Linked DNA regions of Homo sapiens. The protein of the gene in region 3 purifies or fractionates together with the protein of the main gene of each other region. This does not show direct contact. Each region holds a gene or a part of one and is shown on either strand. Other genes may lie near its edges.

The links.
Region 1: the proteins of PLEKHA5 (region 3) and DCLK1 purify together in Homo sapiens (affinity purification with mass spectrometry, with the first as the bait; one large-scale study listed by BioGRID). This does not show direct contact.
Region 2: the proteins of PLEKHA5 (region 3) and PPP2R2C purify together in Homo sapiens (co-immunoprecipitation; one large-scale study listed by IntAct). This does not show direct contact.
Region 4: the proteins of PLEKHA5 (region 3) and AGAP1 purify together in Homo sapiens (affinity purification with mass spectrometry, with the first as the bait; one large-scale study listed by BioGRID). This does not show direct contact.
Region 5: the proteins of PLEKHA5 (region 3) and LRFN1 purify together in Homo sapiens (affinity purification with mass spectrometry, with the first as the bait; one large-scale study listed by BioGRID). This does not show direct contact.
Region 6: the proteins of PLEKHA5 (region 3) and KIF13B purify together in Homo sapiens (affinity purification with mass spectrometry, with the first as the bait; one large-scale study listed by BioGRID). This does not show direct contact.
Region 7: the proteins of PLEKHA5 (region 3) and ZBTB21 purify together in Homo sapiens (affinity purification with mass spectrometry, with the first as the bait; one large-scale study listed by BioGRID). This does not show direct contact.

What each region holds. Positions count from the first base shown.
Region 1 is NC_000013.11:35,768,152-35,771,382, forward strand, and holds the end of DCLK1 (serine/threonine-protein kinase DCLK1), read right to left. Parts: 3' UTR 501-3,231; downstream 1-500.
Region 2 is NC_000004.12:6,320,081-6,322,614, forward strand, and holds the end of PPP2R2C (protein phosphatase 2, regulatory subunit B, gamma), read right to left. Parts: 3' UTR 501-2,534; downstream 1-500. UniProt on the Homo sapiens protein: The B regulatory subunit might modulate substrate selectivity and catalytic activity, and might also direct the localization of the catalytic enzyme to a particular subcellular compartment.
Region 3 is NC_000012.12:19,373,817-19,376,900, forward strand, and holds the end of PLEKHA5 (pleckstrin homology domain-containing family A member 5), read left to right. Parts: intron 1-1,714; coding exon of another isoform or gene 1,715-1,749; 3' UTR 1,750-2,584; downstream 2,585-3,084.
Region 4 is NC_000002.12:235,500,543-235,504,042, forward strand, and holds part of AGAP1 (arf-GAP with GTPase, ANK repeat and PH domain-containing protein 1), read left to right. Parts: intron 1-3,500. UniProt on the Homo sapiens protein: GTPase-activating protein for ARF1 and, to a lesser extent, ARF5. Directly and specifically regulates the adapter protein 3 (AP-3)-dependent trafficking of proteins in the endosomal-lysosomal system.
Region 5 is NC_000019.10:39,306,066-39,308,464, reverse strand, and holds the end of LRFN1 (leucine-rich repeat and fibronectin type III domain-containing protein 1 precursor), read left to right. Parts: coding exon 1-832; 3' UTR 833-1,899; downstream 1,900-2,399. UniProt on the Homo sapiens protein: Promotes neurite outgrowth in hippocampal neurons. Involved in the regulation and maintenance of excitatory synapses. Induces the clustering of excitatory postsynaptic proteins, including DLG4, DLGAP1, GRIA1 and GRIN1.
Region 6 is NC_000008.11:29,066,778-29,071,070, forward strand, and holds the end of KIF13B (kinesin-like protein KIF13B), read right to left. Parts: intron 3,990-4,293; coding exon 3,727-3,989; 3' UTR 501-3,726; downstream 1-500. UniProt on the Homo sapiens protein: Involved in reorganization of the cortical cytoskeleton. Regulates axon formation by promoting the formation of extra axons. May be functionally important for the intracellular trafficking of MAGUKs and associated protein complexes.
Region 7 is NC_000021.9:42,000,361-42,003,860, reverse strand, and holds part of ZBTB21 (zinc finger and BTB domain-containing protein 21), read left to right. Parts: intron 1-899; 5' UTR 900-964; exon of another isoform or gene 965-1,511; intron 1,512-3,500. UniProt on the Homo sapiens protein: Acts as a transcription repressor.

The DNA.
Region 1 (3,231 bases), on a different chromosome or scaffold from region 3:
ACGCCAAGGCCCAGGTTTTCGATGGCAGGTTTTTGGCAGAGCTGCCAGCCTCGTAAAACAAGGTAATGGTCTTTAGGAAGTAATCACTTTAGCTATTGTTTCCCAGCAGTTGCCAGAGAGTCTAGAAAGGACCCAGTGACTTCACGACAGTACAGTACAGCAAAAGGGAGAACAGCAGCTGCAGCAGCAGCCTGTGGATGGCAGGGAAGGTGACTGCTAATTTTACAGGCACTTGGAGATATTCTGGCACCTTCATAGGACACCAGGGAACCTGCAGTCACTTTTGCTGGCTGACTTTTCAATCTCCTAGCATTGAAAAGCTCGACAGGAAAGAACTTAAATCCATTGTACAGTTTTGCAATTTTCTCTAAGGCCAATATTACACATGGAATGCCTAATGGGAAATTGCTACAAAAGTGGCAGCTAATTACAGGTTAGTGGATAAAACAACACCCTTCTCTGGAGAGCCTGTGCACGTAGGTTGAAGGATAAAATAGGGCTGAATGGTATTTGGTTTATTTGTATTTATCCAAGTCAGTGGCCCAGGCAGGAACGTAATATATGACAAGGGACATTTTTGAAATAGCTGTTTTTGAATTATGCTCATGAAATACACACTGTGCTATGGAGGACATGTGGGAAAGCTACACTCTGACCGCATGACTAATTTTTAAAGCCTTGCATAGAGAGAATTCCCCCTAAGAACACAGCTGGGCTATTCCTTCGTGAACTGAATGTGTCAATTGTGAATTGAACTAAGGTGAAATTTTACTCCAATATGGCAAATGAACTGAGGAGCGTACCCTTCAGCTAAGGTATTATGTAGTAGTTCATACACCAAGTACTATTATTTTATTAACTTTAAGAACATGTTTTACATAAAAACAGGCAACATCAAAAAAGCTCAGTTGATAAATGAACATAATATATCACAGATGATTTCATTCCACATTAACCTACATGTATCAGCTTAAACTGAAGGATTAGGGGGAAAAATTGGATCTCATTCCACCTTTAATTAAGGACACAAATTGTTTGAAAGTTATTTCATTAGGATTCTGAAAATCAAAGATTAACCTATGCCATCTGATCCATGCAGCAAGTGATAAATTCAGTATTTTCAAAAGAAATATTGAATTTTTTTCTTGAGTCAAATTGAAACCTTTCAGAAACTTGTTTAAATGCGCCAAGTCCCTACGCACCTTTTTAGTATGTATGAGCAAAATACTGTTGAATTTCACACTCAACTAATCCTTTAATAATTTTCTTTCAGCCAGAATGAAAAAGGCTAGTATTAATTTCCTAATAAAATTTTTTTTCAAAAGTTATCGAGGATATGACTATAACCTTGGACCAGTTTCAATTTCTTTTTATTTTTTCTGAGAATACACCAAAGATTAATGTCAATGGCAAGTGAGAAATTGTCCCTAGAGAACTATTCAAGGACTTTTTCTTACTACATTTGATTGGACTGGAGTGAACTGACATTATAGCATCTTTATCATCACCTTTAAAATTCTATTTTCTCTTAGTAGCAACAGTGAAGACTTTAGAACTATTACTTACTTTAAATTATTAAAGTATATCACAGACAAAATATTCAATTTTACATTAAAGCAACATTAAGGGTCTCAATTTCATTGAACAGAAACAAATGCTGAAGAAATTTACAGGTATGATTTAATTTTAGAGAGTGTTCTTTCTTTAGGGAACAAAATGAAACTAGATCTCTCATTTGTCTGTATGGGCAAGATATGGTAAACCTCATGATCAAAACACATGCCAGTTAGAAACTTGATCACAGAAATGATGCTCAGTGTTGAAACCCAACAATAAACAAACAAACAAAAACCCCCACTCTAACCAGAGGCATTTAAGCCTCTCCACTGAAGTTCCTGTTTCCCACCAGTTTACGACCCTTAATGTTACTGCATGTATGGTTGCATATTTGAGATGATTAAAAATAAAAGACTGGCTTAAAAGCACCTCCTCCTCTAGTGTGTAATTACATACAAACTAAAGATTCCTTCTGACGTCCTAGGAACCCCATTTGTTACCGTTTCATGTGTAAGCACCATTGAACCAATTTTTAAAGCACATTTGCAGTTATCAAATGTTTAGTGTGTCCTCAAGTTTCATTGATTTGTTTGCCTTTAAGCAAGAAAAGAGTAAAGTGTATTATTTTCCCCTGCTTCTTTTCATATCTGAATTGTCAAAAAATGTTAATTTTGGAAGTGCTTTTAATCACTATTTTCCCCAACAGACTAGAATGGCTCCATGAAATTTGACAATTAAGTAAGGAAATCTTTATCCCCAAAAGAAGCACGTATCTTACCCTCTAAACTGCATGCAAAGTAAGGGTCTGTGTGAGAGTATTTTCCCCAAACTCCTAATGGACATGGCAGACAATGTGTAGAAAAATCTGAGTTTTGAACTGACCAACTTCAAGTCTTTTAAAATCTTTGGGCAAAAAAAAATATCATGTAGCAGTTAAAAAAATTATTGACTTACAAATTATAGAAAAGATATGTTATCTACAATATATGCCAGGTGACCCATTAAATTTAAAAAATGTGTGCGAATGAGTAACTACATTAAAACTACCATCTTGGATCTTGGTGCTTTCCAAAATTCTGAAATCACTATTAAGGAGGGACCATACCAGATTTTTTTGTTGTTCTTTTCCTTGGAGAATGGGGAAGAAGTTGGAAAGAGAAGGAAGTAAACCTTCACTCTTTGGTACAGCCCTGTATAGCAAACTTCAGCCTGGGGCACATTTTTATGGTCAAATTAAAAACCTTTGAGAATAGGAGTTTATCATAGAAATGCTGACAGATCCTAACCCAGAGAAGGGCTAAGAGCAACACAGTAATATTAAGAAAGCTCTCCCTCAGCACGATTGAGCTTCAGCGCAAGGGATAGAGTTGTCTAGTGGACGCCCTTGGCCAGTAAACAACCATGATTTAATGTGCTTGAGACTTGGTCATATGGGAGCTCTGTGACCCTCTAAGCCAAATTTTCTTTTCTTTTTGTTTTCAACTGAAATATGCCTCAAAGGGTAAAGGATTGCAATTTTAGCCTTCATTCATGGATATATTGCTTTCTTTCAACAATATCTGATGGGCCTGTTAACTGCCACCCATGGGGAGCAGGTTGCAGGAAGGTCTCATTGAACACAAAACACCAAGTGTTTTCAGTAGTTTATTCACATTTTTTTTTCTCTGCTTATTT
Region 2 (2,534 bases), on a different chromosome or scaffold from region 3:
CCATTCTCTGGGACCCTCAGGCACGTCTGTGGGGGAGCACTGGATGAGGAGTTATGTGCTACCTGTGTGATTGCGAGCTAATTCTTTAACCTCTCTGAATCAGTTTCCTCATCTGTATCATATTCTCATGGAGAGTGTGAGTGTGTGTGGAGATCATGATGGGCTATGCACACCTGCTGCCAGACAAAACAAGACAACTATCATTACGGAGTGTCATGTGCCAAGCACTGTGTTTTGCACTATCCAAGTTAATCTTGTCCTTCCTCTCCCACCACAAACCTACAAGATAGGTCGTCTTATTAGCTCCATTTCCTCAGTGATGAATTCAGAGCTAGGGAAAGTTAAGAGCTGCATTAGGAGCTAGAGGGAGCAAACCCTTGACGTGAACCCAGCTTCCCAGTGCAAAGCCCATGGGCATCCCCACCCACTGTATTGCCTCCTGATGGGCTCCACCTCCATGAGGTTGGACTCACTAAAAACAAACAGCATTCTGGACCTCGTTTTTGATGTAACATTTGTTATTTTATTGGAAAAAGCTGGTATTAACATATTTATAGTTTTATTCAACAATTGGGTAATTTGTGAGACACCAAAGAAAAAAAGAATGCACCTATGAGTTACAGAGTCCAAACTGATCAGGGCTGACAACTTGACCACCATGTATCCCACACCACCACCCCCACCACCACCACCACCAACAGCTTCGTCCTCAGAGAAGAGCTAAATTAAAAACAAAACCAAAAAAACCCCAACAACTTCACAATGACTATGTGAACGCCCGTACATTCGAGAGTACCAGGAAATGTAAGCAGAGCCAGGATGCAAGTCTGTGACTATTACACTGGTCCTTCCACCGTTTCTGGTTTTGTCCCTCCCCTCGACACCTTTTCTTAACACACATTTGATCTTCACAATTTGCTTTGGACATCATTATTTTCCAGGGATCCAGAGACATACTTTTCTTCAAAGAAGATCTTTTCCTTTCTTTTTTCTTCTTTTTGGTTTGGTACCCAAAGTTTAAAACAGAAGTAAGGAACTAGGAACTGTATTAAGACCTCCTTTTGAAGGACATGTAAGATTTGTACTTTGAAGATGGTAAATGTTAAATCTATGATGTGACAGTAACCTCTAGCTGCAAATACAAGTTTCTTCTCTTAACATTTGACTCACAAAGGGAGATGGATCGTAGCAAATATCCAAGTAATGGGTAAGGCCCTCAGAGCTGGGTTTTGGCTTTAACACGCTATCTATACAATTGACCACATTCTCGAACCTCTTTACAAGGGGGAAAAAAGTAATCCAATCCTTTGATTGTTAAATTTAATTAGAATAGATATGTACATATAATACTGTCCAGGTCAACTGGATTTTATAGTGATATATAAACAAACATTCTTCATTCACGTTGATTAAAAAAAAATCAATGATCCATTTCCCTGTGTAAATGTTATATGGCCAGAAGTGAGTACACATGCACTTTGTGCTTTTACACACACAAAAGTATACTGTAATCCACTGAGAATAACCTCAGCTGGGTCTGTTTCCTGGGTTATGTTATATCTTGTAAAAAACAAAACAAAACAAAACCAAAAAAAAAGTTTGGATTTGGCTGGGTCTCTGCTCCCCACTTTCTGAATCAAAATGCCAAACTACGTGGCTCTGCTGCAAGTCCATGAGCAAAGACGACTCAGAGGGGTGGGCAGGTTTGGTATCACCAGAACAGGAGCATCTACCATGGAAACACCACCTTCTCTGTGGCCCTCATTGTCAGAGGGGCAGAGTTCCCGAGGGATGTGTCCTCTGGGACTGTGTGGTCCTTAAAGTAAAGGTATCCTAAAATGGTCAGAACATGCAATTTCCTTTCAAAGGCAGTTCAGTGCATTGGCTCAAGGAGGGTGCAAGCCCAGGATGAAGTGGAGTCCTGGGGAGGGCCACACTCCTGAAGCCACCAAGCAGAGCGAGGAGCTCCGGGGGGTCTTCTCTGTCTTCCATCCTGCGTCTCAGTTCTCCTGGACCCTTGTCGTCGCCAAGTCTGCCATGTCCTACTTCACAAGACAGAGGCATTCCTTTCCAAACCTTCCATTTGAATGTCGCTCTAACATGAGCCGCCCACGAGATGGACTGGAGAGAACCTTGTGTGAAGACCCGGACGGGTTCCTGACACCACTGCACGGCACCTGCCATGGGTGACCTGTGCATCCGCTCAGAGCCTCAGCTTCTTCTCGTGGACAGAGGGGATCCTAAGGGTTCCCGCTTATCCCCAGCATCCAGCCCAGAGCCTGGCACGCTTCGAGAAGTTGGTGTTTATGGAGGAAATGAATGAACACCCACCTCACAGTCAGGAGGAAGATTCCAAAAAATCGTGCATGGGAGTCAGTGTCCGCTCCGGGAAGGTGCCCAGTGAATGCTGAAGGGTGAGGCGGCAGGGAGGGCTGCAGAGGGTAAGTCAACTGCCTCTAGGGCTGAGCACCACGCCTGGTACACAGCAGAGGCTCAGCAAATGGCAGGTGAATCAGATGAGGACACAGGCACAC
Region 3 (3,084 bases):
TAATATTTTGATTCAATAAACAGATTATGACTGTACACATATCCTTCCAATAATAAAGGATATTCAGAGTTAAAACTCAAGTATATTTCCAGGTTCCTTAAATTGTTATAGGATTTTATTTTGTTTTCTTCTTATTCCAAGAGCAGTGGCATACTGTAATGAGGTATGATTATTGTCGGATATTTTCTAGTCTCATGGTATGCAACTACCACAAATAACTAAAGGCATGAAAACTTGTATTATTTCATATCTTCCTATTATGCATATGCCATCTTTCTGAACTAGTGGTTTTGGCAGGATTTAGGAAACCTTTACAAATGACACTACGATGTAGGCAGCTCAATAATTATTACGTATTTTAGTGGAGTTATGCAAATGTTTGCTCATTTTGTTGATCTTTTGGATTCAGCTACGTTTGGTACTTTTTTTTTTTTTTTGCAGTTGCAAGATTTAATAGAGTGAAAACAGAGCTCCCCTAAAATGGGAGGGGACCCAAAGGGGGTTGCCGTTGCCAGCGGTACATTTTTTATTCTGTATTGCTATTTATAATCACATTATGTTGGCCGGGCACAGTGGCTCACGGCTGTAATCCCAACACTTTGTGAGGCCGAGGCGGGCGGAACACAAGGTCAGGAGATCGAGACCATTGTGGCCAACATGGTTGAAACTCCGTCTCTACTGAAAATACAAAAATTAGCTGGGCGTGGTGGCATGCACCTGTAGTCTCAGCTACTCTAGAGGCTGAGGCAGGAAAATCACTTGAACCCGGGAGGTGGAGGTTGCAGTGAGCCAAGATTGCGCCACTGCACTCCAGCCTGGGCGACAGAGCGAGACTCAGTCTCAAAAATAATAAGAAGGCCAGGTGCAGTGGCTCACACCTGGAATCCTAGCACTTTGGGAGGCCGAGGCGGGCGGATTGCCTGAGTTCAGGAGTTTGAGACCAGCCTGGGCAACACGGTGAAACCCCGTCTCTACTAAAATACAAAAAATTAGCTGGATGTGGTGATGTGCACCTGTAGTCCCAGCTACTCAGGAGGCTGAGGCAGGAGAATTGTTGGAACCCAGGAGGCAGAGGTTGCAGTGAACTGAGATCGTGCCACTGCACTCCACCCTGGGCAACAGAGCAAGACTCCGTCTCCAAAATGATGATAATAATAATAATAATGAAGAGAAGGAGGAGGAGGAGGAAGGAAGAAGAATTGCATTACATTATGTTTCCTTGTGGGGCCGGGTATAGTGGCTCATGCCTGTAATCCTAGCACTTTGGGAGGCCAAGGCAGTCAGATCAGTTGAGGCCAGGGGTTCGAGACCAGCCTGGCCAACATGGTGAAACCCCGTCTCTACTAAAAATACAAAAATTAGCCAGGCATGGTGATATGTGCCTGTAATCCCAGCTAGTTGGGAGACTGAGGCAGGAGAATCGCTTGAACCCAGGACGCAGAGGTTGCAGAGAGCCGGGATCATACCACTGCACCCCAGCCTAGGCGATAGTGATACCCTGTCTCAAAAAAAAAAAATTGCATTATGTTTCTTTGCTTTGTGAATTAAGCTATGGAAATGAAGAAAAATATCCTTTGATGTATTGTATTTTAGGATTTTCATGGCCATGCTTGTCAGTTCTGTTGTTACAGAATGTCACCCTTAGTTACTTTGGGAAATGGTAATTAATTAACGTTGCAGGTGTCAAAGTAATTTCCTCTCTCTTATTTTTCAGCTATACTGACTTCTGTTGAAACCATTCAAAGCTAAAGACATGGACCTTCAGCAGTGTAAGAAGATATTGTACAGTATATTTTAAATCTATGAAATTCATAGTTCTGATGCTTTTGGTCACAGAGCATCATTTTATCACTTCTGGAAAATGTTTATTCCAAAACAGCTTTAATGGCCCATATGTACACTTCGTAATCTCAAGGTTATTATTCTGACACCAGCTTGCTGCTATGATTTCAGAGCACATAAGTAAAGGTGCTTTTTAATGTGCAGTCTATTTCCAGAGCTTACTTAGTTGCTGATTTCCAGATTTCGATGTTTCTTAAGTCTAGGTGAATTTATATATATATTTTTTTGCTTTTCATTTTCTAAAGTTAGTTATTATTTCCATTGAAGCTTGTTTTCTTTTTTTTCTTCCCATTTTAGCTACTGCAGTGCTTTTGTTTCACACTTGATTTGTAAAAATTTTATATATATGTATTTAAAATGTGCCATTTTATTGCTAAGTGAAGTATGTCCTGTTTTCTGCTATAATTCTTTCTCGGTCAGATTGCAATGTCAGCAGTTACTGCCACACTCCTGTCAGCTTAAACACAAATGTTACTGCTTATCTTTTCTTAAAAAAAAAAAAAACAAAGTGTAGGTATTTTGAAGTACTGGGCTTATATTTCATTGGAATACATGTGTACAGCAATAAGCAGGTTTCCAAATCCGGTACTTAGTTTGTGTACAAATGTAATTATGTTCATTGTGTATATATTATACAATGAGCACATGTAATGTATTAAAGGCTACTTACTATTGTTTAAATGCAAATGTTCATATCTCATTTCTTTTTTTATCATGTTAAATAAATGTTGATGTTCTTAAATCAGTGTTAGAATTTTTGTTCTTTCCATCCAAAATTGAAAGTCTTAAGACTCAAGAGACCTCTAGAAGAAAAGGTACTCTGTTAATTTTATAATCCTAGACAACATCTTAAAAGATCCTTGTCGGTCCAACCCTCCCATGTCAAAGTTGAGGACCTTGAGGCTCAAAGAGATCAATTGAGTTGGCCACAATTTAATGACAGAATTTTGACCAGACTATAGTTTTTTCTGACTTTTTCTCTAAGTACATTACATTAGCTCATTACCACTAGAGGAGTTTAGTTTTGTGAAGTCTTTTACCACGTTTCTATTTGCTTCCATGTTTCAGAAAGTAACTTCAAGCATCAGTAGTCCTGCTCTGTTTAGGGATTGGACTTTGAGAGAGGTGTGTAAGGCAGCTGTTTGTCTGACATGGGTAGCTAGAAACCGTTTCATCGTAAGTAGGACCCTCAGAGATCATTTTCTCTTACAATACATTCTTTGCAGATGTTCACGCTCTTCA
Region 4 (3,500 bases), on a different chromosome or scaffold from region 3:
CCAGCTGAGAAGGTTTCCTATCAGCCTGCCCTGCAGGTTTCAGGTGAAGACACCTAAGGCCAGCTGCTCAGGGAGTTGCTTGTGGTCACGCAGGCTAAGTGTGGTGGACGAGGGACTTAAACCAGATCTGAATGGTTTCAAGCTGGTGTTCATGTGATCTTCATGATGCTGTTTGAAAAGCAGCTGAATGCTGGGTGAGGGGCCTGTCGTGCCAGACCCCTTTAAATTTCATTAGGGATGGCACCGGGTTCAAGAGACTGGAGAGGAGACCTAGAGCCAGCAAACAAAAGACAGAGGGTTTATTAGGGGAATTTATTTACAGAGTGGTCCCATGGCGGCCTGGGCAGGAGAAGCGCTGCTGCTTGCTTTCAGAAAGCGTGCAGTTTATATAGCATTTTCGCTTAACACCCTCCCCCAAACAACCACCACCCAGCAACCTTAACACCAATCAAAGAGCCTCAATACCCTGTATGGCCTGCTTTCCATGGGACAGGCTGGGGGTTTAGATGTTCCTCATAGATAAGGAATGAATCTCTGGGTTGGCCACTCCCGGATTCCTTAGCTCAGAACCCCGAACATACATTCAGGTGCACCTGCCATGTGGGGCCATTCTCAGTTATTGCTGTCAGGGGCATCTGTCAGTGGGCTGCGTTTCTGCGACACGGTGGCATGTCGGATGGACATTGCCAAGAGAATCTGGTTAGGAGGTAGAGGCAGCTGATGTCCATTTCCTTCTAGACTCATTCTGTGGTTTTGCGGATTTTCCTTCTTGTCTTTCGGAGATTGTTGCTTTTTAATGTAGTCTTATGTATATTTAGATTGGGTTCTTCAGTATTCACTTATTATATGATAATTTGGCAGATGACACATTTTGTTACCAATATTTCCAAGCTGAAAGCGCGTTTCTGTAAAAGACAGGAGCTAGATGTTACTAGTAGCTTAAAAGAGCTGTTGGAGGAGCCTGAAGGAAGTGACTCATAAGGGAGAGAAGCAGTGGGGGCAGCTGCAGGAACCTTCAAAACAAAACCTGCAGCCCTGTTGCTACCACCTCTTGTTTTTTGCCTAAACCAGGCGTTTTATTTTGTTAAGACGAAAATCCCTTATTTTGCATCCGTTTTTCCCCCTGTATACCCTGCAGGTGTTTATAGTTTGTGAGTCTCACTCTGGCTTGTTTTAACCACTGATTTCGTTTCGTCTTATGTTTCTCTACACTCTAGCAAACCTGTGTCCCCCTCCCCGCCCCCATCCCAATCCTCCAGCCTTCACGTCCTTAGCTTAAGTGATTGAGTCTGGCAAAGCGGATGAGGCTTAGCTATTTTTAAAATCCAGGGTTTGAGGTTCTGATCTGGTGCTTAGCTACATAATTCCTTCCCTTTGTTAAGTACCTTTCTCCGAGAAACAAAATGCACTCTACAGATGTTAATCTCTAATCTTTGCAGCATCTGTTATTTTTATTCAGGGGTACAAGTGCTTTGTGTGTGCTGCGGTGAGCCCTGGCCTTCTGGAAGCTCTGTGCTTCTGAGGGGCTGAGGGGGATTTGGGGGTCCCTTTTCATAGTGTGGGCTGTCTTTCCCAAGATGCAGTGATGACCCATCAGAGGCAGGGTTGGTATTGTCCGTGGGGTCCAGTCCCTCTATCTTCCAGGGCTTTTCTGGTCACAAGAGACCATGGCCAGAAGTGGGTATCGTGCTTGTGTCTGGGGCCTGGGGAGGGAAGGAAAACAAATACCACCCCCTGCAGAAGAGATCGTTAATGGATTCTTTGAGTAACCAGCCAGATAGCTTGTTTGTGTGCGAGGTTGGGACATTTTCCGTAAAGAGCAGACTAAATATAGGCTCGAGGGTGGGGACCAGGGCCCGAGAGGGGGCTGCCACTGCTTGCTCCAGTATTGTTTCTTCCATTGGTAACCAGAACTTGCCACCAGTCCCAAACAGGTGGCCACCCTGAGCTCTCTGGGAACAGATTGGTGTTTTTGTTTAACCAGGGGCTCATTTGCAAATTTCACACTTCTCCCGCTGTTTGATGGGGATTGTCTTTTTTTGGGCTGCAGTGTTGGAGTATTTGTACAGTGTTTCTACACAAGCAACTGTCTAATCTTTAAAACTGCTCATGCCGTCTGGTTGTCATTAGCATCATGGTTAGAAGCTTTTTATTTGCCTTTTTTTTTTTTTTTTTTTTTAAGGGTGGGAAAACACTTTTCATGGTTCTGGGAGAAGAATTTCAAATAATGTCCATGTTCACAAATGATTTATGTTTGGTCTTGGAGAAATGTCAGCATTCAACAGGCTCTAGTAAATACAACCATGTTGATTTCCAGCTTAGGACGAAGCTACTGTTACCCTGTTCTCACTCAGATAATAGTCTGAAAGGCAGAACCGTACCTTTAGAAAGTACATTTAGCTTCAATTCAATAAGTTTTAGTTTTAGCCAATAGTGACTTGTAGTATGGAGGATACTTGAAAGAAAGAAGTTAAACATTTTTTAAAAAATTTATGAACACCTGCAACAAATAGCCACAAGACCTACCCTTTTTTCAGGAAAGAGTTTTCACTTCTTAAATGTCACCTTGGGGGCATGCCCACTGTGTGATGGTACCCTTCAGCAGGATTGGTATTGTCGGAAGTGCTGGCTAGCTTATGTAATGAAAAAGAAATTGATTTGGAAAGAGCTGATTGCCCTGAATTTCCATCCTGTTTGTGCGTTGAGCTGCCCTTTTCAGTGGGGGAGAATCCAGCATATTTTCCAGGGAGGGCGTTTCCGGAAGCCTGTCTGCACCCCCTTTGTTGTTGTTTTCGAAGGTCTGGGGTGCTGCTGTGAGCCGGGATCGCGTATCTGCTCCTGTTCTGACGAGACTGCTCCTGCTGGAAGTTCAGCCTGGTGAACCTGATTTGGGAGGGGATGGTGTGATTGGCGGGGAACAGCATTGTGTTAATTTTAGCTTCAACAATCAAGCCTGGGTCTCTGAGTGTCCATGTAGTACTTGAAGTTTGGGTTTGGAATTGGTGGGATTGAGACCACTTCAAACTCTTTTATTTCTTGGAACTTGTTAGTATTTATTTATTTATTTTTTGAGACAGGGTCTCACTCTGTTGCTTAGGCTGAAGTGCAGTGGCACTATTGGGGCTCATTTGTAGCCTCAACCTCCCAGACTCAAGTAATCCTCCCACCTCAGCCCCCGCCAAGTAGCTGGGACTCCAGATGTGCACCATGCCTGGCTAATTCATTGGATTTTCAGTAGAGACGGGGTTTCACCATGTTGCCTGGGCTGGTCTTGACATTCTGGACTCAAGCAATCCACCTGCCTCAGCCTCCCAGAGTGCTGGGATTACAGGCATGAGCCACTGTGCCTGGCCTAGTTTTTAATTTTTGAGACAGTCTCTGTCAATCAGGCTGAAGTACAGTGGCACGATCGTGGCTCACTGAAGCCTTGCTTTCCTGAAGCGATCCTCCTGCCTTGGCCTCCCAAATAGCTGGGACCACAGGCACGCACCACCATGCCC
Region 5 (2,399 bases), on a different chromosome or scaffold from region 3:
GGTCTACGACGACGGGGCCACAGCGCTGCCGGCAACGCGAGTGGTGGGCTGTGTACAGTTCACCACCGCTGGGGATCCGGCGCCCTGCCGCCCGCTGAGGGCCCATTTCTTGGGCGGCACCATGATCATCGCCATCGGGGGCGTCATCGTCGCCTCGGTCCTCGTCTTCATCGTTCTGCTCATGATCCGCTATAAGGTGTATGGCGACGGGGACAGCCGCCGCGTCAAGGGCTCCAGGTCGCTCCCGCGGGTCAGCCACGTGTGCTCGCAGACCAACGGCGCAGGCACAGGCGCGGCACAGGCCCCGGCCCTGCCGGCCCAGGACCACTACGAGGCGCTGCGCGAGGTGGAGTCCCAGGCTGCCCCCGCCGTCGCCGTCGAGGCCAAGGCCATGGAGGCCGAGACGGCATCCGCGGAGCCGGAGGTGGTCCTTGGACGTTCTCTGGGCGGCTCGGCCACCTCGCTGTGCCTGCTGCCATCCGAGGAAACTTCCGGGGAGGAGTCTCGGGCCGCGGTGGGCCCTCGAAGGAGCCGATCCGGCGCCCTGGAGCCACCAACCTCGGCGCCCCCTACTCTAGCTCTAGTTCCTGGGGGAGCCGCGGCCCGGCCGAGGCCGCAGCAGCGCTATTCGTTCGACGGGGACTACGGGGCACTATTCCAGAGCCACAGTTACCCGCGCCGCGCCCGGCGGACAAAGCGCCACCGGTCCACGCCGCACCTGGACGGGGCTGGAGGGGGCGCGGCCGGGGAGGATGGAGACCTGGGGCTGGGCTCCGCCAGGGCGTGCCTGGCTTTCACCAGCACCGAGTGGATGCTGGAGAGTACCGTGTGAGCGGCGGGCGGGCGCCGGGACGCCTGGGTGCCGCAGACCAAACGCCCAGCCGCACGGACGCTGGGGCGGGACTGGGAGAAAGCGCAGCGCCAAGACATTGGACCAGAGTGGAGACGCGCCCTTGTCCCCGGGAGGGGGCGGGGCAGCCTCGGGCTGCGGCTCGAGGCCACGCCCCCGTGCCCAGGGCGGGGTTCGGGGACCGGCTGCCGGCCTCCCTTCCCCTATGGACTCCTCGACCCCCCTCCTACCCCTCCCCTCGCGCGCTCGCGGACCTCGCTGGAGCCGGTGCCTTACACAGCGAAGCGCGGGGAGGGGCAGGGCCCCCTGACACTGCAGCACTGAGACACGAGCCCCCTCCCCCAGCCCGTCACCCGGGGCCGGGGCGAGGGGCCCATTTCTTGTATCTGGCTGGACTAGATCCTATTCTGTCCCGCGGCGGCCTCCAAAGCCTCCCACCCCACCCCACGCACATTCCTGGTCCGGTCGGGTCTGGCTTGGGGTCCCCCTTTCTCTGTTTCCCTCGTTTGTCTCTATCCCGCCCTCTTGTCGTCTCTCTGTAGTGCCTGTCTTTCCCTATTTGCCTCTCCTTTCTCTCTGTCCTGTCGTCTCTTGTCCCTCGGCCCTCCCTGGTTTTGTCTAGTCTCCCTGTCTCTCCTGATTTCTTCTCTTTACTCATTCTCCCGGGCAGGTCCCACTGGAAGGACCAGACTCTCCCAAATAAATCCCCACACGAACAAAATCCAAAACCAAATCCCCCTCCCTACCGGAGCCGGGACCCTCCGCCGCAGCAGAATTAAACTTTTTTCTGTGTCTGAGGCCCTGCTGACCTGTGTGTGTGTCTGTATGTGTGTCCGCGTGTAGTGTGTGTGTGTGTGTGTGTGTGTGTGTGTGTGTGTGTGTGTTGGGGGAGGGTGACCTAGATTGCAGCATAAGGACTCTAAGTGAGACTGAAGGAAGATGGGAAGATGACTAACTGGGGCCGGAGGAGACTGGCAGACAGGCTTTTATCCTCTGAGAGACTTAGAGGTGGGGAATAATCACAAAAATAAAATGATCATAATAGCTAACGCTTAGTGAATACTTACTTACTATGTGCCAAGCACTTAAGTCATTTAATTCTCACAACACCAGGACATATCGGTATTATTATCCTGTTTTCCAGATGAGGGAATTTTGGCCCAGAAAAGTTAAATAACTGGCCCAAGGTGGTAAAACTGGGATTTAAAAAGGCAGGCAGGCCAACTTCTGAGTCTCTACTATAGGGGTGAAAAGACAGCTTCCCCTTCACTCTCTGAAATTTCACTGGAATGGGCTGACAATAGATTAACAAGAGAAAAGGAATATGGAGGGTATTTAACATGCACTAGGAAAATCACAGGAAAGTGATTACCCAATAACCCAGTGAGGTTTATATACTTATATACCTTTCTTCACAGGAGGGGAGATGGGGAAAGGAAGGCAATTTTGAGGGGTAATAAATGATTTTGGGGAAAATAAATGGGTCCAGGAGATAGAATTTAGCTTGTAAATGTCTCTGGAATTTGAGACTGACAGACAGATAATTTCT
Region 6 (4,293 bases), on a different chromosome or scaffold from region 3:
TGCCCACCTCTGCAGCAGGGGAAAGAAGTCCTCTCACCCCAGTTTGAGGGGAGAGGGGAGGTCCAGTGTGGGGACCAACACGAAGGTCACAGCAGACAGTGGAGTCATGCCTGAGAGCCAAGGAGAGTCCCTACCAGGTCACCTGTCTCCCAGTAGCACCACTTACCTGGGGTCGAAGGGCCCCAGAAAGTTTCCATGGTTCCTGGCTTCAGTAAGGGGCTGAAGTCCAAACAAGGAAAGATGACTCAGAACCGGGGGGCCTCCTGGGCTCTTAAGTCCAAATCATGAAGAGTTCAGCCTCTGAAGTCCATGGGCTGGGGAGGCGAGCACGGCCTGCTGCTGTTCCCTGATCCTCCTCCTCCCAGTCTCAGTCTGGAAAAGCCCCGCACCACCTTTGCTGAGAACAAGGCCACACCATGACAGGATGGCCTGCCAGGAGCCCCAAAACCCTATGTTGGGGTGAGGGGAAGGAGAAGCAACAAGACTGGCCTCAGACATGATGCAGGTGAGAAATGGTCTGGTTTTATTGAGAAGCTGTTGGTCATTTGATGGAAAGACACATACGGTACAAAATTACAGGTGGTTTAGTTCATTACATGATACAAATCATTAGAGTCTTTACAAGTCATTAGAGTCTTTGGATTTTTTAAACTCCCATTTACTGTGTACCAAATCAATATAATCACAGAATCAAAGTCACTTCTTTATATGTGAACTCTTCGCATTTACACGAATCCACACATAGAGAAGCTGTTCCAAGACCCCCCAACACCATTAGTGTCTGCAGCCCACCAGGAAGGCACCACGGACTTTGTGGAGAGAAAGATGCTTTGGGGGTTCAATGGGTCAGTATCTTGGGCAGGAAGCACAGGGTGACTCCCGTCTTGTGTGCGTGCGCACAGCCACCAACACACACTCTCAGGACTTCCCGTTTCACATACAGGGAACTTTTAAGGCAAGAGGAGAAAATGCTAGGAAGTAACGGGGGATCAGAACTCCTCCACCTCTCAGGCTCCAGCAGTCACATTCCCAGCTCCGTTCTCTTGTTGAACCTTGGTAGGCCCAGAAACATCTTCCCCCTCCTCACCTCTGCCCTCCCGCTCCCTCTGGTCAGGCCTGGGTACCCAGGAACCCAGTCACACACCTGCCCCCTGTCCCCTCTGCTGCTGGACGCAGTGCCCGGGGCAGAAGTGAGCCTTCTCACCCTGGAGCCTCAGTCCTTCATAAGGGCCCGAGGGAAGTGGCGGGGTGGGGCCAGGGATGTTCTGGGCACACAATGGGGAGGCAGGGCCCCCAGAAGCATCCCCCACCCCCATCTCTGACAGCGCCGCGTGTGCAGTTACTGCCCTTCCCGGCCTTGGGTGCCATCTGCGGGCCGACCCACACTAAGGTGCCACTCCTGGGGCCTTCCAGGAGCGCATCGGGAGTCCTAAGGCGGGTGGGCGGGCAGGCGTTCTTGGGAGGTGAGTCTGCTGGTCAGGGAGGCAAGAAAAGAAGATAGAAGACGGAGGCCAGCCCGCCCTGGCCCACCACTCTGGAGACCGCACCTCCTGCCTGCCAAGTGCTGGCCCGGGGTCAGCGGGGCTCACTGCCTTGGTGACCACGTCACTGCACATCCCTCTTTCCCAGCCACAAGCTGACATTAGTCCGCACCGAGAAGCAAGAGTGAACAGGGCCTGGGCCCAAATCCACCTGCTCAAGTCAGGAACTCTGGCTCGTTCTACTCCACTGTAAGTCAAACCGATGGTAAAAAGCACGACACACACGTCCCCCAGGACTTTCCCAAGATGGTGCTACAGGAGGCCGCTGCTGGGTGGATGGCTCAGCCACCACGAAGTGCCAGGTCCCACCCACGCTGCCCGTCCGCCACCATTCCCAGAGCGTCCCCACTACACGGCCCAGGCGTTTCCCCTCAGGGCAGCAGCAGTGCTGGCCTCTCACCCAGGCCATAGTGACACCAGCGGACCCAAAAACAAACTTCTCAGTGAAACAGGTTTTAAAAAGAAAGCCGCTGTGCTGGGAAGCGGGTTGAGTTAAAGGGCAAGGCAGAGGTGACAGCTCTTCATCCAGGGACAGGTGCCACAGGGTTCCCTCAAAATCGGCTAAGGACAGGGAGAGCCCTGGAGGAGTGCCTCCCCCCAGGGGCCGGGCCCTCTGCCAGCCCGGCCGCAGCCTTCGTGTCCCTCGCCAACTGGGGAGAGAAAGACAACCTGTCCTCGCAGCCAGGGCTGGGACAGGCCCACCATGGAGACTACTCTGTTGGCGCCTTCAAGTCCCTAGAGAACCAGAGCCTTCCGCAGCGCTTTCTAGATGTTGACTAAATGTGAGAACTAGAAACCAGCTCCAAGGGTGGCTGTGTGAATCTTGACCCAGGACTCCTGTCCCTAGATTGGTGGCCTTCCACACATAGACGCTAACCCCCATCCCACAAACCTGGCACCAAAGGCTCTGGGAGCATAAGTGCCCCAGCCAGGAGGTGGAGGCCACCCCGGAAGCTTCCGGCTGTCCCGCCCACACCATGCACGGTGGGCCTGGGGGCGTGGCTGCTGTGAGGGTCTGGAGACTAACCAGCACACTCCCTGCACCAGCCCAGCCGCCAGGCCCCAGCCCCACACTCTGAGAGTCTGGGAGTTGCCGAGAAGTTAAAATGACCCAAAGACCTTCCTAGAAACCAAAAGTGCACCAAATAAAGTAGCAATGCCTCTTCCTTTGTCACCGACTACAGAAGCACATCATTCTCCCAGGTTTTTGCTCTCATCCAAGTTAAGAGTAAGGCCACTGTGGATCCGCAATAGAGGGATGTGAGGAGGGGGCTTTATCCTCTGCCGTCCCCAGGACCCTCCACCTGGGCAGGAGGCCAGCAGCTCTGCAATGGCCAGAGAGGCTGCAACGTGCAAGGCAGGCCCTGGGCCCCCCCACACAGGCAGACGACGATTGCGGCTCGCAAATGATTTCGGATTTTGAAAAAATAAATATAAATAAATACATTCCAAGCCTTCTGTGAAGGGAATAAACGGCAAACATAAGAGACTTTCCAGGTGTCTAAAGATGCCAAAACATCCACAGAGAAACCGCTAAGAAACCCTGGCAGAGGAGGGATGGGGGGGCTCAGGCCCTCGGCCCCCGTCTGGGGCACCAGGACCATCTGCCAGAGCCCAGGGCCCTCCAGAGGCACTTGTGGAACCTGGGACCAGGGTGGGAGGCTGGGGGGTCCCCCAGAGGCACTTTGCGGGAAACTGGGACCAGGGTGGGAGGCTGGGGGGCTTGCGGAGTGAGCCAGGACATCCTGGGTGGGTGGGGGGGCTTGCCCTCCAGTGGGGAGGAAAGGCACTGGTTACAATTATGGTTTAGGTTAAGACATTAGTGGGGCCACCAGAATGGAAATGATAGAAAGAGCAACATAAGGCCCCAGGCACAGGCACACAGCAAGATCACCAGGCGCTGCACCACCCAGGGTCTCAGTCCTAGCATCCCCCAGCCCCTGCGGGCACCCAGAACCTTCCATCCACCTGAGGAGGCACAGTTGAGGCCCCCACTTTACCCGGGTACAGAAGAAACAAAGCTTCCAGAGGCCCAGGGAGGTCACCAGCCCTGTGTCGTGCAAAAAGCATTCATCGCCCTGCCCCTGGGGAAGGGGCCACCGGGCTCCTGGCTCCTCAGGGCTGTCACTGGCAGGGCTCAAAAGGGGCCGGGCACCCCCAGAAAAGTTCGCCCTAAGGCAGCGGCTCAGCTGGCCCAGGATTTCCGGTTCTCAGGGTTCTTGTGGCTCCTGTCGGCCTTGGCCAGGGCAGCTGTCAGCGAGGCCAGGTTGGTGGCGGAGCCCGAGAGGGTGGCGCTCCGGCGGGCCTCGGGGGCACCCAGCCGGAGTCCTGTGCTGCGCCGCCGCACAGGGCCCGTGGCCCTGCGGACCCGGCTGGGCCTGACCAGCAGCCCGTAGCCAGGGTTACACCTGAAGTACTGCTTCCCGCCGATGGAACCGTCATTCTTACCTGCGGGGGAAGGAGAGGGTGATATGGAGGGCAGCCGAGCTGCAGACGGCCCCCTGCACCTCCCTTACCTCTGCAGAGGCCATGTGCCCACACTGCCACCCCCCCGCACAGGCCCTACACAGCCAGCACTCGGACACTGGCCATTGTCTGGCAGGGACTGGCTAAATGAATGTGGCCAGGGCCTGGGGTGACCGCCTCCCAGGACAGTGAGCAGTGGTGACCAAGGATGCACAGCCCCAGTCCTGCAGCCTCAGGTAGGAGGTGACAGGCCCTGGGGGCCCTGGGGAGTGCCTTGTGGAAGCAT
Region 7 (3,500 bases), on a different chromosome or scaffold from region 3:
TTGGAAGGTTTTAAGCCCCAGCAAGGCCAGATGAGCATTTCTGAAAAGCGTCTATAGTAGAAATGTAAAGAATGGAACCTTTAGTATTAGAGGTTGACTATCCCTTATCTGAAATGCTTGGGACCAGAAGTGTTTCAGATTTCAGATTGTTTGGGATTTTGAAATATTCTCATTATACCCAGTGGTTCAGCGTCCCTAATCCAAAAGTCCAAAATGCTCTAATGAGCCTTTCCTTTGTGCATCATGTCGTTGCTCAGAAAGTAGTTTTGGGTTTTTGGACTAGAGATATTCAGCTTGTATTATAATTGTCAAAGGAGTGATGAGTCCCAAGCCTTCCTTAGGACTATTCACTCATAGTTAATAGTGAATAGTTCCCACTATTCACTCTTCCACCCTCCTACACCCTGGCCAAATTAATTGCTTCCTGGAATCAGTATTCCCGTAGCATTCTTCACATCCTTTGTTAATTATTGTCTGTCCTAACATGGAAATGTGAGCTACAGGAGAACAAGAAGCAGGCCAGTTACTCATCTCCCCATCACCAGCACCTCTTGTGATGTGTGGTGGGTAGCAGGCCCACGCAAGCATCTGTGAGGGGAAGTGGAGAAGGAAGGAAGATGTGCATGTGCCACATGGGAAGTGCTGAACGTACTGGGGCTTTCAAACATGTTGCCTCTTCTGTCCTTCATAAAAATCCTATGTGGTGGGTAGTGTTAGCCATGTTTAACAGGTAAGGAAACTAGTCAGAAAGGTTGAGTCATCTTTAGAAGGTTCCATGCCTAATAGGTGGCGGAGCCAGGATTTGAGACAAATAGACTGATTCGAAAGGCTTTTCCATGGAACTGTAAGGTCTTCTGTGAATTGTTAACCATAAAGATTCTCTCATTTTGAAATTTCAGAAGACATGAAGTAGAAACAATCCAGGAAGGCTTTGGGAAGCTATTTGTGTGCGAGGATCAAAGTGGTAAGCAAGCCGGCCCTATTTTAGAAACTGGTTTTCCTGGGGGGTTTTCCTCTTAGTTTTTTCTGTTGCTCGTAAATAGACCTTTTCTCCAAATTTCACCCACTGGTCTTTTAAGAGCTCCAAGGTTTTTCCACCATGACTGAAGTGGCAGAAGTTCTGCCGTGATGAGTCAGGTGGAGATGAGCCGTGGAAAGGAGGGGCGTAGACGGTGGTGGCAGCAGTGCGTGTTTATGTGTAAGATGCACTGCTTCTGTAAGTCGGAGGCCCTGATTACTCATAATGAAAACCTGCATGGAAATTTGGAGTGATGTGCCAGCAAACTTATCGGTCTAGATCTGAAAAATACACTGAGGAGAAAGTACACCCGGCAACAAAGCTCGCCTTATCTGACAGCAGAAGAGCAGAGAAATCAAAAGTTTTTGAGGATTCGGTGTACACAGCCACCAGCCACAAACAGTCTTGCTGGATTATCTCGTGATCGTCAGCAGTTGTGATTTTCCCCCTTTTTACTTACATTCTTGATGGATGGAGCATTTTATATTTTTAGGTAATTGTTAAACTCAAATATACTGACTGTCATTAAAACACAAAAATTCAATATGTTAATTGTCTGTCTGCAGCCAGACTAGGAAAGGGTACATTGTTTTCAAAACTTAATAATTGAATTAAAATGTAAAAAAAACAAGGGCCTTAATGTGAAGGTGAGGGATCTGCATCTCCTAGCTACCCCTGTCTCCTATCTAGACATCTAGAGTCTCTAGATCCTGGGGTACTGGGGAGAATGGACAATGTTGCTTTCCTGTGCAAGATCCTCAGATGACATATTTTAGCCCCCAGGGCGCTCATGCCTCCATCTTCCTCCAGCCTCATGGGCATTTCCTCCCCTATGTGTACCTTTACCTTTCACCAGGCAAAGCCACCTGTGGTTCCCTTGGATTCCTCCTGCTCTGTCTTGTCTCTGTAGTGTTGCATGTACTGCAGCCCAGCCAGCTGATGTGAATCTTGCCCTGCTACTTATTATCTGTCTGACATTGAGCATGTTACTTAACCCTCTGTGCCTCGGTTTTCTCATCTGTAGAATGGAGATAATAATAGTACCTAACTCCTAGGGTTGATGTCAATATTGAGTTAATACATTAAAAGTGTTTTCTTTTGTGTGTGTGGCAGAATAAGCACCCAAATTATAGCTGTTATTGAGTACCTAGTTACTGTTCTACTGAAAGGAATGGAAAATAAATACTCGTCCCTCGAAATGTCCTTCATCCTTCCTATCTCTTCCCAGCATTCCCTATAAAACTTTCTTCGTAGAACGCCCTTCCTGGCCTCCATCTCACCTGGCTCTGATGCCTGTCATCTATACTGCGTCTCTACCTCTGCAAACATCCTGTCTGCTGCTCAGCATACTGGACTAGGCTGATGAATTGACCTGTTCTCTTCCTGCACAAGACCTTAAGCTCCATGAGGCAGGGCCATACTTGTTAAATTGATATCTTCCATGTCTAGAAGGGTTCTAGCACACACTAGACAGATGCTAGCCATAAGTCTATAATTGTCTGGGTGACCTTAGGCAAATGACTTGACCTCTCAATGCCTCAGTTTTCTCATTTGTTTGTAAAAAGGATTGATGACACTGTCTAGTTCAGAAGATGATACGAGAATTGGAAGAGGAAACTAGAGGCAGTGTCGTGTAGGGGTTAAGAGCTTAGCCTCTGGATCCAAGCCAGCTGATGTGAATCCTGCTCTGCTACTTATCTCTATGACGTTGAGCATGTTACTTGACCGTCTGTGCCTCAGTTTTCTCATCTGTAAAATGGGGATAATAATAGTACCTACCTCCTATGGTTGATGTAAATATTGAGTTAATACATAAAAATAACTTCTTTATTTTTGTGTATGTGACAGAATAAACACCCAAATTTTAGCTGTTATTAAGTACCTAGTTACTGTTCTACTGAATGGAATGGAAAATAAATACTCTATAAAGTTATTCTGCACTTGTGTATCAGGAATTTGGACATCTTGAGGCACTTTTCAGGCAGGTGTGATGGCTCTAAATGGAGGTTATAGGAAAGTTAAGTTTTAAATCCCCAATAATTTTCAGGGACAGTGAGTATTTCTCTTACAACTTAACTTTGAATGACTTTATTATTGTCCCCTAGTCCATAGATGTTTTCATCCAAAGAAGATAGAGGTCTGTGATCCAAGAAATTTGAAGCAGTGACTTAGAGCAGAAATAGGGATCATGATACTTTGAATAATGCATAAAGAAGGAAACCTTTCTAAACAAAAGGGACACAAATGTTGCTTTTTTGGCAACGGGATGCATACGGTCTGTGGAATACCATTTGCTTCAGGTCCAGGGATGTAGAAAACTCCCCTTGGTTTAGTCTTCACACTAAAGGGCCAGGACAAGCCCTTGGAAGGGAGGTTTTAGTGTGAAGTGGTTAGCCGTTACCTGTGCTTCGAGTTCTGTTTGTGTCTTAGTTTGGATTCCCCCAAAAGTAGACCCCAAGACAAGGATTCAGAGGTAGACGTT